2 separate regions of the Homo sapiens genome follow, and region 2 is reported to be linked to region 1. Evidence: microRNA targets listed by miRTarBase, many of them from high-throughput screens and not tested one by one. Region 1 holds a microRNA gene; the other region holds the end of a gene's coding sequence.
The links. Region 1 holds the annotated microRNA hsa-miR-3189-3p (CCCUUGGGUCUGAUGGGGUAG, at 1,496-1,516, shown strand). A microRNA usually pairs through its seed, bases 2 to 8, with sites in the 3' UTR of a target mRNA and lowers its output. Matches are read on the target gene's strand: a 7mer-m8 pairs with bases 2 to 8, a 7mer-A1 pairs with bases 2 to 7 and ends in A, and an 8mer does both.

Region 2: the mRNA of KLHL40 is a reported target of hsa-miR-3189-3p. Seed matches in the 3' UTR shown: 7mer-A1 at 3,706-3,712.

What each region holds. Positions count from the first base shown.
Region 1 is chr19:18,385,112-18,389,495 of GRCh38, forward strand. It overlaps MIR3189 (microRNA 3189), which reads left to right and starts at 1,451; the gene lies at 1,451-1,523. GDF15 (growth differentiation factor 15) reads left to right here and starts at 1,047. Exons shown (of 2, transcript NM_004864.4): 1 at 1,047-1,355; 2 at 3,175-4,065. The coding sequence starts at 1,079. The coding sequence ends at 3,824. RefSeq lists enhancers at 591-1,413, 1,002-1,171.
Region 2 is chr3:42,691,462-42,695,845 of GRCh38, reverse strand. KLHL40 (kelch like family member 40) reads right to left here. Exons shown (of 6, transcript NM_152393.4): 6 at 3,302-3,964. The coding sequence ends at 3,853. HHATL (hedgehog acyltransferase like) reads left to right here. Exons shown (of 12, transcript NM_020707.4): 10 at 2,028-2,229; 11 at 2,628-2,769; 12 at 2,971-3,183. The coding sequence ends at 3,095. Among named protein-coding and RNA genes, the nearest start is that of KLHL40, 8.1 kb to the right of the region's middle.

The DNA of each region.
Region 1 (4,384 bases):
AGGCATGTAATCCCACCACCAAGCCCAGCTAATTTTGTATATTTAGTAGAGACAGGGTTTCTCCATGTTGGTCAGGCTAGTCTAGAACTCTTGACGTCAGATGATCCACGTGCCTCGGCCTCCCAAAGTGCTGGGATTACAGGCGAGAGCCACCGTGCCCGGCGCAGAATTCTTTTTTTTAGAGATGAGGTATTGCCATCTTGCCCAGACTTGTCTCGAACTCCTGGGCTCAAACAATCCACCCACCTCGGCCTCCCAAAGTGCTGAGATTACTGACATAAGCCACCATGCCTGGCCCCCAGAATTATGAATCCTGTGAGGATGGCTTCAAGGTGAGCGCTGAGCCAGACAAAAGGATGGGGTTTGGGAGCACCCTGCTTAGACTGGAAAGATAATGTTGGAGAAGACTTCCTGGAAGAGGGGCTTTTTGCGTAGAGTTTTGAAGAATGAGTAGGAGTTCTCCAGAGGAGGATGAGTAACTGCAATAACACCCAGTTTATCAAGTGCCTCCTATGTGTCTGGCCCTGTGCTTTACCCCTCATTTGACCACCTCTCCAGTGAGAGTCTCAGTCCTTTTTTTCCTGGTGAGGAAACAGGCATGGCAGAGAGGCATGACACATCAAGGTTGCCCTTCCTGGCTCCATCTAGCCCGTTCTCCTCTGCTTCCTTTGTTTTTCACCATCTTTAGCCTTTGACCCCAACCAAAAAGAGAAGAGAGGAAATCCCATGGGCATAGACAGCCACCTCTTAAACTCTTGTCTGGAATTTTTCACATAGTAACAATGTCTTTTTTTCCTCCAAAAAGACTCCCAGGCTGGAATGGTGTCCTCATATCGAGGAAGAGGATACTGAGGCCCAGAAATGTGCCCTAGCTTTACTAGGAGCGCCCCCACCTAAAGATCCTCCCCCTAAATACACCCCCAGACCCCGCCCAGCTGTGGTCATTGGAGTGTTTACTCTGCAGGCAGGGGGAGGAGGGCGGGACTGAGCAGGCGGAGACGGACAAAGTCCGGGGACTATAAAGGCCGGTCCGGCAGCATCTGGTCAGTCCCAGCTCAGAGCCGCAACCTGCACAGCCATGCCCGGGCAAGAACTCAGGACGGTGAATGGCTCTCAGATGCTCCTGGTGTTGCTGGTGCTCTCGTGGCTGCCGCATGGGGGCGCCCTGTCTCTGGCCGAGGCGAGCCGCGCAAGTTTCCCGGGACCCTCAGAGTTGCACTCCGAAGACTCCAGATTCCGAGAGTTGCGGAAACGCTACGAGGACCTGCTAACCAGGCTGCGGGCCAACCAGAGCTGGGAAGATTCGAACACCGACCTCGTCCCGGCCCCTGCAGTCCGGATACTCACGCCAGAAGGTAAGTGAAATCTTAGAGATCCCCTCCCACCCCCCAAGCAGCCCCCATATCTAATCAGGGATTCCTCATCTTGAAAAGCCCAGACCTACCTTTGAGCCTCAGTTGCCCCATCTGTGCCCTGGGTAGGAATATCCTGGATCCCCTTGGGTCTGATGGGGTAGCCGATGCCTGATTTGCACCCACAACGTGGGAGGTTATAACCTGTCCCCAAGTTGCAAATGGGGAAACTGAGGTACAGGGATGCCAGGGACCCTCCTGAATGTGCACAGCACCTGGGAAACCCGGGGACGGGGTCGGGCGTGCGGTGTGGGCATGGTCCCTGACCTGGGCTGGGGCCAGGATCCAAGAGAAACAATGGGGGTGTGGTGCATGGATAGAAGTTTGTGATGGGCAGAGCCAGCTGGAGCTGGTTCTGAATCTGATGAAATCGCTTGTCAAGGCACTGCTAAAGTCACATGCAACGAGCGACTTGTTAGGGGAGGAGGAGAGTATTTTCCCCATCTCTGTGCCCTCCATGGAGGCTCCAGGGGTGCAGGGCACTGGATGAGGTCTGGGCTGTGGTGGGACCCAGGAGGGGGCAGGCAGAGGGGCACACTCTTAGCCCGCCCTAAACCCATCTGTGCCGTGTGACTCCGGCAAACCTCTCACCCTTGCTAAGCCTAGCAACTAGGTTAAGGCACCCTCAAACCCCAGTCTCCCCAGTCTCCCTAACACTTGTACCAGCCTGAGGGGCTGTGATTCCTAGAGGCTCAGTAGTCTGGAATGTGATGGGTTTGGCACTCTTCATTTCTCGGGATTACACCTGTAATCCCAGCACTTTAGGAGGCCAAGGTGGGAGCATCGCTTTAGGCCAGAACATTGCAGCCTGGGCAGTATAGCGAGAATCCATCTCTACCAAAAATGTTTAAAAAAAATTAGCCAGACATGATGGTGTGTGCCTGTAGTCTCAGTTATTCAGGAGGCTGAGGCGGGAGGAGCACTTGAATCCAGGAGATTGAGGCTGCACTGAGCCATGAGTGCCCCACTGCACTCCAGCCTGGGTAACAGCAAGACCATAATAAATAAATAAATAAGTGAAGCAAGTAAGTTTTTGACTGCCAGAAGAAAAGCAGAGCCATGGTTGGAATCTCAGGCTGCCTGAATATCAGATATACATTAATTCCTTCAAGTATTTACTAAGCACCTATTGTGTGCCAGGCACAGTGTCAACCAAGCTAAGATTCTAAGTAGGGAATATGAATGATACACAAGGAAATAAAATAGGGTGCTTCCTATTTTAGGCAGGCTGGAAGGAAGAGGAGGAGCCAGCCATACTGAGATTCAGGAGATTCAAGGGGAGAAATGCCCTTTTTTTTTTTTTTTTTTTTTTTTTTGAGAGGGAGTCTTCCTCTGTTGCCCAGGCTGGAGTGCAGTGGCACGATCTTGGCTCACTGCAACCTCCACCGCCCCGATTCAAGCCATTCTTCTGCCTCAGCCTCCCGAGTAGCTGGGATCACAGGCGCCAGCCACCATGCCCAGCTAATTTTTGGTATTTTTAGTAGAAGCGGGCGTTTCACCATATTGGCCACATATCGGCCAGGCTGGTCTTGAACTCCTGACCTCAAGTGATCCACCTGCATCGGCCTCCCAAAGTGCTGGGATTACAGGCGTGAGCCACCGCGCCCGCACGGAGAAATGCTCTTGGTAGGGGAAATAACTTGTGCAAAGGCGCCGCCGCCGTGGTGAGATCCAGCTTGGCGTGTTAGGGGAAATGGGCACCCTCGTTCCTGGAAAACGGTAGGCCTGTGGGTGACCAGCTTCCCTATCTGTCTTCCCACAGTGCGGCTGGGATCCGGCGGCCACCTGCACCTGCGTATCTCTCGGGCCGCCCTTCCCGAGGGGCTCCCCGAGGCCTCCCGCCTTCACCGGGCTCTGTTCCGGCTGTCCCCGACGGCGTCAAGGTCGTGGGACGTGACACGACCGCTGCGGCGTCAGCTCAGCCTTGCAAGACCCCAGGCGCCCGCGCTGCACCTGCGACTGTCGCCGCCGCCGTCGCAGTCGGACCAACTGCTGGCAGAATCTTCGTCCGCACGGCCCCAGCTGGAGTTGCACTTGCGGCCGCAAGCCGCCAGGGGGCGCCGCAGAGCGCGTGCGCGCAACGGGGACCACTGTCCGCTCGGGCCCGGGCGTTGCTGCCGTCTGCACACGGTCCGCGCGTCGCTGGAAGACCTGGGCTGGGCCGATTGGGTGCTGTCGCCACGGGAGGTGCAAGTGACCATGTGCATCGGCGCGTGCCCGAGCCAGTTCCGGGCGGCAAACATGCACGCGCAGATCAAGACGAGCCTGCACCGCCTGAAGCCCGACACGGTGCCAGCGCCCTGCTGCGTGCCCGCCAGCTACAATCCCATGGTGCTCATTCAAAAGACCGACACCGGGGTGTCGCTCCAGACCTATGATGACTTGTTAGCCAAAGACTGCCACTGCATATGAGCAGTCCTGGTCCTTCCACTGTGCACCTGCGCGGAGGACGCGACCTCAGTTGTCCTGCCCTGTGGAATGGGCTCAAGGTTCCTGAGACACCCGATTCCTGCCCAAACAGCTGTATTTATATAAGTCTGTTATTTATTATTAATTTATTGGGGTGACCTTCTTGGGGACTCGGGGGCTGGTCTGATGGAACTGTGTATTTATTTAAAACTCTGGTGATAAAAATAAAGCTGTCTGAACTGTTCCCTGTGGTGTCCAGGATAAGGGAAGGTGACCTTGAGAAGATCCTCCTCTCCCTGACCTCAGTTTCTCTAGGAGACCTGGGAGGGGGTAAGTGGAAAGGCTCAAGGAATGAGTGGCAAGGTGTTCTCGGAGATGCCAAGCCATTGGAAGGTGCTTACGACACCTGTGGGCTCTAAGGGCAGCCTTGGCCATTCCTGACTCCCTGACTCTCTGTCTCTATTTCTCTATCTCCTTATTGCTGTTTCTTTTTTCTTTTTATTTTTTTTAGACGGGGTCTCACTCTGTTGCCCAGGCCGAAGTGCAGTGGCACAATCACAGCT
Region 2 (4,384 bases), not on the chromosome of region 1:
AAGAGGAAGGAGGTGAGGGTGTCTAGTTCCAGGCGGAGGCCTGGCTTCAGTGGGAGGAGGAGGAAGAGAAGCCAGTGTGGATGCAGAGGAAAGCAGGTTAATGTAGACAAGTAAGGGATTCCACCTGAAGGCTTCAGCCTTGTCCATGAAGCAGGAGGCACGGCCATCAGCTGAGAAAGCCAGGACAGGGACGTGGAGAGAGGCAACATATATGCTTACCCCCACAACCCAGCCTGGATCCCCCCACTCATACTATCTCTCCACTCATACTTGTGGGGAGATAAGAATACAGTGGCCCTTGCAGAGCAAGGGAGAAGCAGCTGACTAGAGAAATCTTGGCACTGAGTACCCAGGTGGTATTGGAGGTGGTGGGCTTATGAACTCCAGCATGTGAAGATGTGAGATTTCCCCCATGGGGCTTAGCTGCCTGGGTGTAGCTGAGGAGAAAGTAAGTGATTGGGCTCTCCCAGATGGATGACAAGGAAGAAGTCAGGAATAAGGGTTTTTAGATTATTTATAGTCATGACTCATTGGATATAAGCCTGCTAAGGACGGTGGTGAAGGTGGGAGGGTCACAAGATCAATGGGATTGAAGAACTGAAGCTGGGGGGCCAGGAGGTCAAGAGGAGTTGGGCAAAGAATGGGAATTAGAAAGGAGTGAACTTTCAAGTGGTGACAAAGTTGGGGCATGGCCATGGGTGTGGGTGGCTGAGGTGGAGTGGAGAAAAAGCCATTGGAAATGAGGAGGTCGAGGAATGGAGAGGCTGGTTATTCCTGGGTCTTCCACAGAACTTATTTAACAAATATTTATTGAGCACCTATGTGCCAGGCATTGTTCTAGGCACTGGGGATACAGCAGTGAACATGGCAAAGACCCTGAACTCATGGAGCTTACAGTCTAGTGGGGAGAAACAGACCATAAACAGGTAAACAAACATAAATAAGATAATTTTAGAGAGTGGTAAGTGTTATGAAGAAAATAAAATTGCAATGGGATAGAAGTTGACAACAGGGTAGAAGCTTCTTTAGTCGGGGTCTAGGCAGGCTTCTCTGAGGAGATGATATTTGAATTGAGATTTGAGTGATAAGGAGATGTGGAGCAGAGAATACCAGGTAGAGGGAACAACAAGGGCAAAGGCCTTGAGACACAAACCAACTGTGTGGGTGTAAAGGTAAGAAAGGCCAGTGAGGCCAGCATGATGAACTGGGGGAGCATGGTGGCTGATTTGGTCAGGAAGGGAACAGAAACCAGACCACTTGGGATCTTCTAGCCAGAGTAAAGAGACTGAGTTTATTCCTATTGTAATGGGGAGCTATTCAGAGAGGTTAATCATGGAAGTGATGTGACCTGAGCTACACTCTTAAAAGATGCCTCTGGCTGCTGTGTGGAGAATGAACCATGGGGGCAAAAGCAGAAACAAGAAGACCACTTAAGAGGCTCTTGCAATAATTTATGTGAGAAGAGTGATCATCTTGACTAGGGTGGTGGTGGTAGAGGAGGTGAGTGGTGGTCAGGACTGAGAGGAGCCAACAGAATTTGCTGGCTTGCTTGGATGTGGGTGATGAGGCAAACTGAGAATCCAAGATGGCACCAAGGCTTATACCCTGAGCAACTGAATGGATGGTGGTGCCATTCACTGAGATGAGGACGGAGCTGGGTTTGAGCAGGGATAGGGGAATCTGTCAATCAAGTGACATGGCTAGTAGCAATTGCATATACAAATCAGGAGAGACTGGGCTAAAGACACAGATTTAGGGGTCATCGTCATAGAGCTAGTACTTGAAATCTTGGGTCTGGATGAGATCATTTGGGAAGTAAACGAACAGAGATAGAGAAGCTATAATGTCCCAGGCTGAGCCTGCCACAATTTGAAGTTGGTTGGAGGAGGAGCTGCTACGTGAGGTCAGGAATGTTGAATGCACCCAGGGTGACAGTGTTGAGGAGGACGCCCTGTTGTGTGTCCTCTCCCATCTCATCCCTGCCCTTTCCCACACTCCCAGTGGCCCTTCTCCCATCTTTCCTGCAGATATGTGTATAACCACATTGGTGGGGAGCATTCCGCTGTGATCCCAGAGCTGGCAGCCACAGTGGCCACATTTGCCATCACCACACTGTGGCTTGGGCCTTGTGACATTGTCTACCTGTGGTCATTCCTTAACTGCTTTGGCCTCAACTTTGAGCTCTGGATGCAAAAACTGGCAGAGTGGGGGCCCCTAGCACGAATTGAGGTGAGCAGGGAAGACCTGGGGCTGGGACTGGCTGGGTCATAGAGGGCGGGGGGGCACTGCTGCTTTCTGGAGTTGTCCAAACACCTGGCCCCTAATCCAGAACTTTCTCACCACCACCCTCTTAGTTGTCAGAGCAATGGCTCACTCTGTAGGAATCTGCCCCTCCCTCCCTTCTATGAGGAATGGAGCACCTGGGCCTTGCCATGTTGGTCAGGCCTTGTCCTCTCTCTGGACCTGTTTCCCCATGTTTAACAAGGAGGGAGAGCTGACCTGGGGCTCTCCGAGACCCAGACATAGCCCCAAGACCTGACTGGCCAGGTGGGTAAGGCTGCTGACCCACCATGTCCTCTTTCCTTTGGCCTCTTGTCCCGCTGCCCATGCTTTCCTGGACCGGATAGGCCTCTCTGTCAGTGCAGATGTCCCGTAGGGTCCGGGCCCTGTTTGGAGCCATGAACTTCTGGGCCATCATCATGTACAACCTTGTGAGCCTGAACAGCCTCAAATTCACAGAGCTGGTTGCCCGGCGCCTGCTACTCACAGGTGAGGGACAGGGGTGTGGGGATACAGAAGGTGCCAGGCATCAGCCTCAAGGACCGTGACCTTCCAAAATGCCTCCTATCTCCCTCATCACCCCTGGGACTCAGAAGGGAGGGCCCATCAAGCGGGGAGAGGGGTGGGAAGACAAAAGTCGCTGAGGATGCAGTGCTGCTCCTGAGCATCTATGACTCCCTCCCCACACAGGGTTCCCCCAGACCACGCTGTCCATCCTGTTTGTCACCTACTGTGGCGTCCAGCTGGTAAAGGAGCGTGAGCGAACCTTGGCACTGGAGGAGGAGCAGAAGCAGGACAAAGAGAAGCCGGAGTAGGAGGGAGCGGGTAGAGGGATGGGCTCTGCTCAGCTATTCTTGGGCCAGATGGGGCCTGACCGATAGAATAAAAGACTTTTCTACAACAGCTTGGCTGTTCCCTGACCCTTCTTCCCACAGTCCCCTGGCTCCACGTCCATAGTGGCTGAGGAGCTGGAGGCTCTAGGCCTCAGGCAGGGGAGGGTTCCCACCCATAGGGTGGAGGGGACACCAGATGGAGAGCAGAGACCATCGACCTTGGCAGCCCAACAGCAGAACACTGAAGCCCCAAGTCTTCAACACACCTGCTCACTGACTCTTGGAGCACTGATGCAGACCCTGAGCTGCTTGCTCAGAAGGCACTTTATTCTTCCTAAAGAAGGAGACATATCTGCACTGTACACTGCACTTGATGGGGATGCTCCCATCGGACAGACGAGAAGGCTGAGTCCTGTGGGGAACTTTGCCAGCACACTCAGCTAGGCTGGGGCAGGGCCAGCACACGGCCTGGGATACCGCCCTGTGGTTCTGGTTCATGGATCAAGACAACCTAGGGGGATATGGCAACACTGGAGAAGCCTCTAGTTTCTCACCCTTGCCCAAAAGTCCAGGACTAAGCAGCACTTCCCTTTCCTTGGCTGACGCAGCCCCTGAGGCACCATAACTGGATCCAGGTAGACTCTGGCCTCTCCTAGCCTCTTTTCTGGAGCCCCCACAAGGCCAGGCCAGTGAGGGTCGCAGGATGGGAGGGGTGCTTAGTTCAGTCTGCCTGAGCTGGTCACATCTTAGTCAGGCACAGCACATTGAGCCGCACTGGTAGGAAGGTGGCACCTGCTGCATAGGCGATCTCCCGCAGGACACCCTCCCATTTCTTCTCCTCCTCGTTATACCTGGGGATGAGAGAGAGTGGGGACAAGGATGGAGAGCTTGGTCAGCTGAGTCCAGAGTGGAACGCAGCAGAGAGGGGTGGCTGAGGGCACTTGGCCCATCTCTAGGGAGATCTGCTCCTGAAAATCCCCAGGCTCTGGGAAAGGAGACCCCCCACAAGACCCACCCCAAGGAACACCCACCCCACACTCCAGGAAGGGTCTTTCTCCCCAGGAAAGATCACCTCTCAAGGGGTGTTCCCATATTCCTCAAAGTTCCCCTCCAGGAAGGTCTACACTGCCCACACCACCCCATCAATGTCCTCTCCTTGAGAATTTCCATGCTCCATTTCTACTAAGTCTCACGTCTCAGCCTCCGGCAGCACTGCTCCCCAGGGGCTGCCTGCAGCAGTGCAGATGGCTGCAGGTTCAGGAAGGAGATGC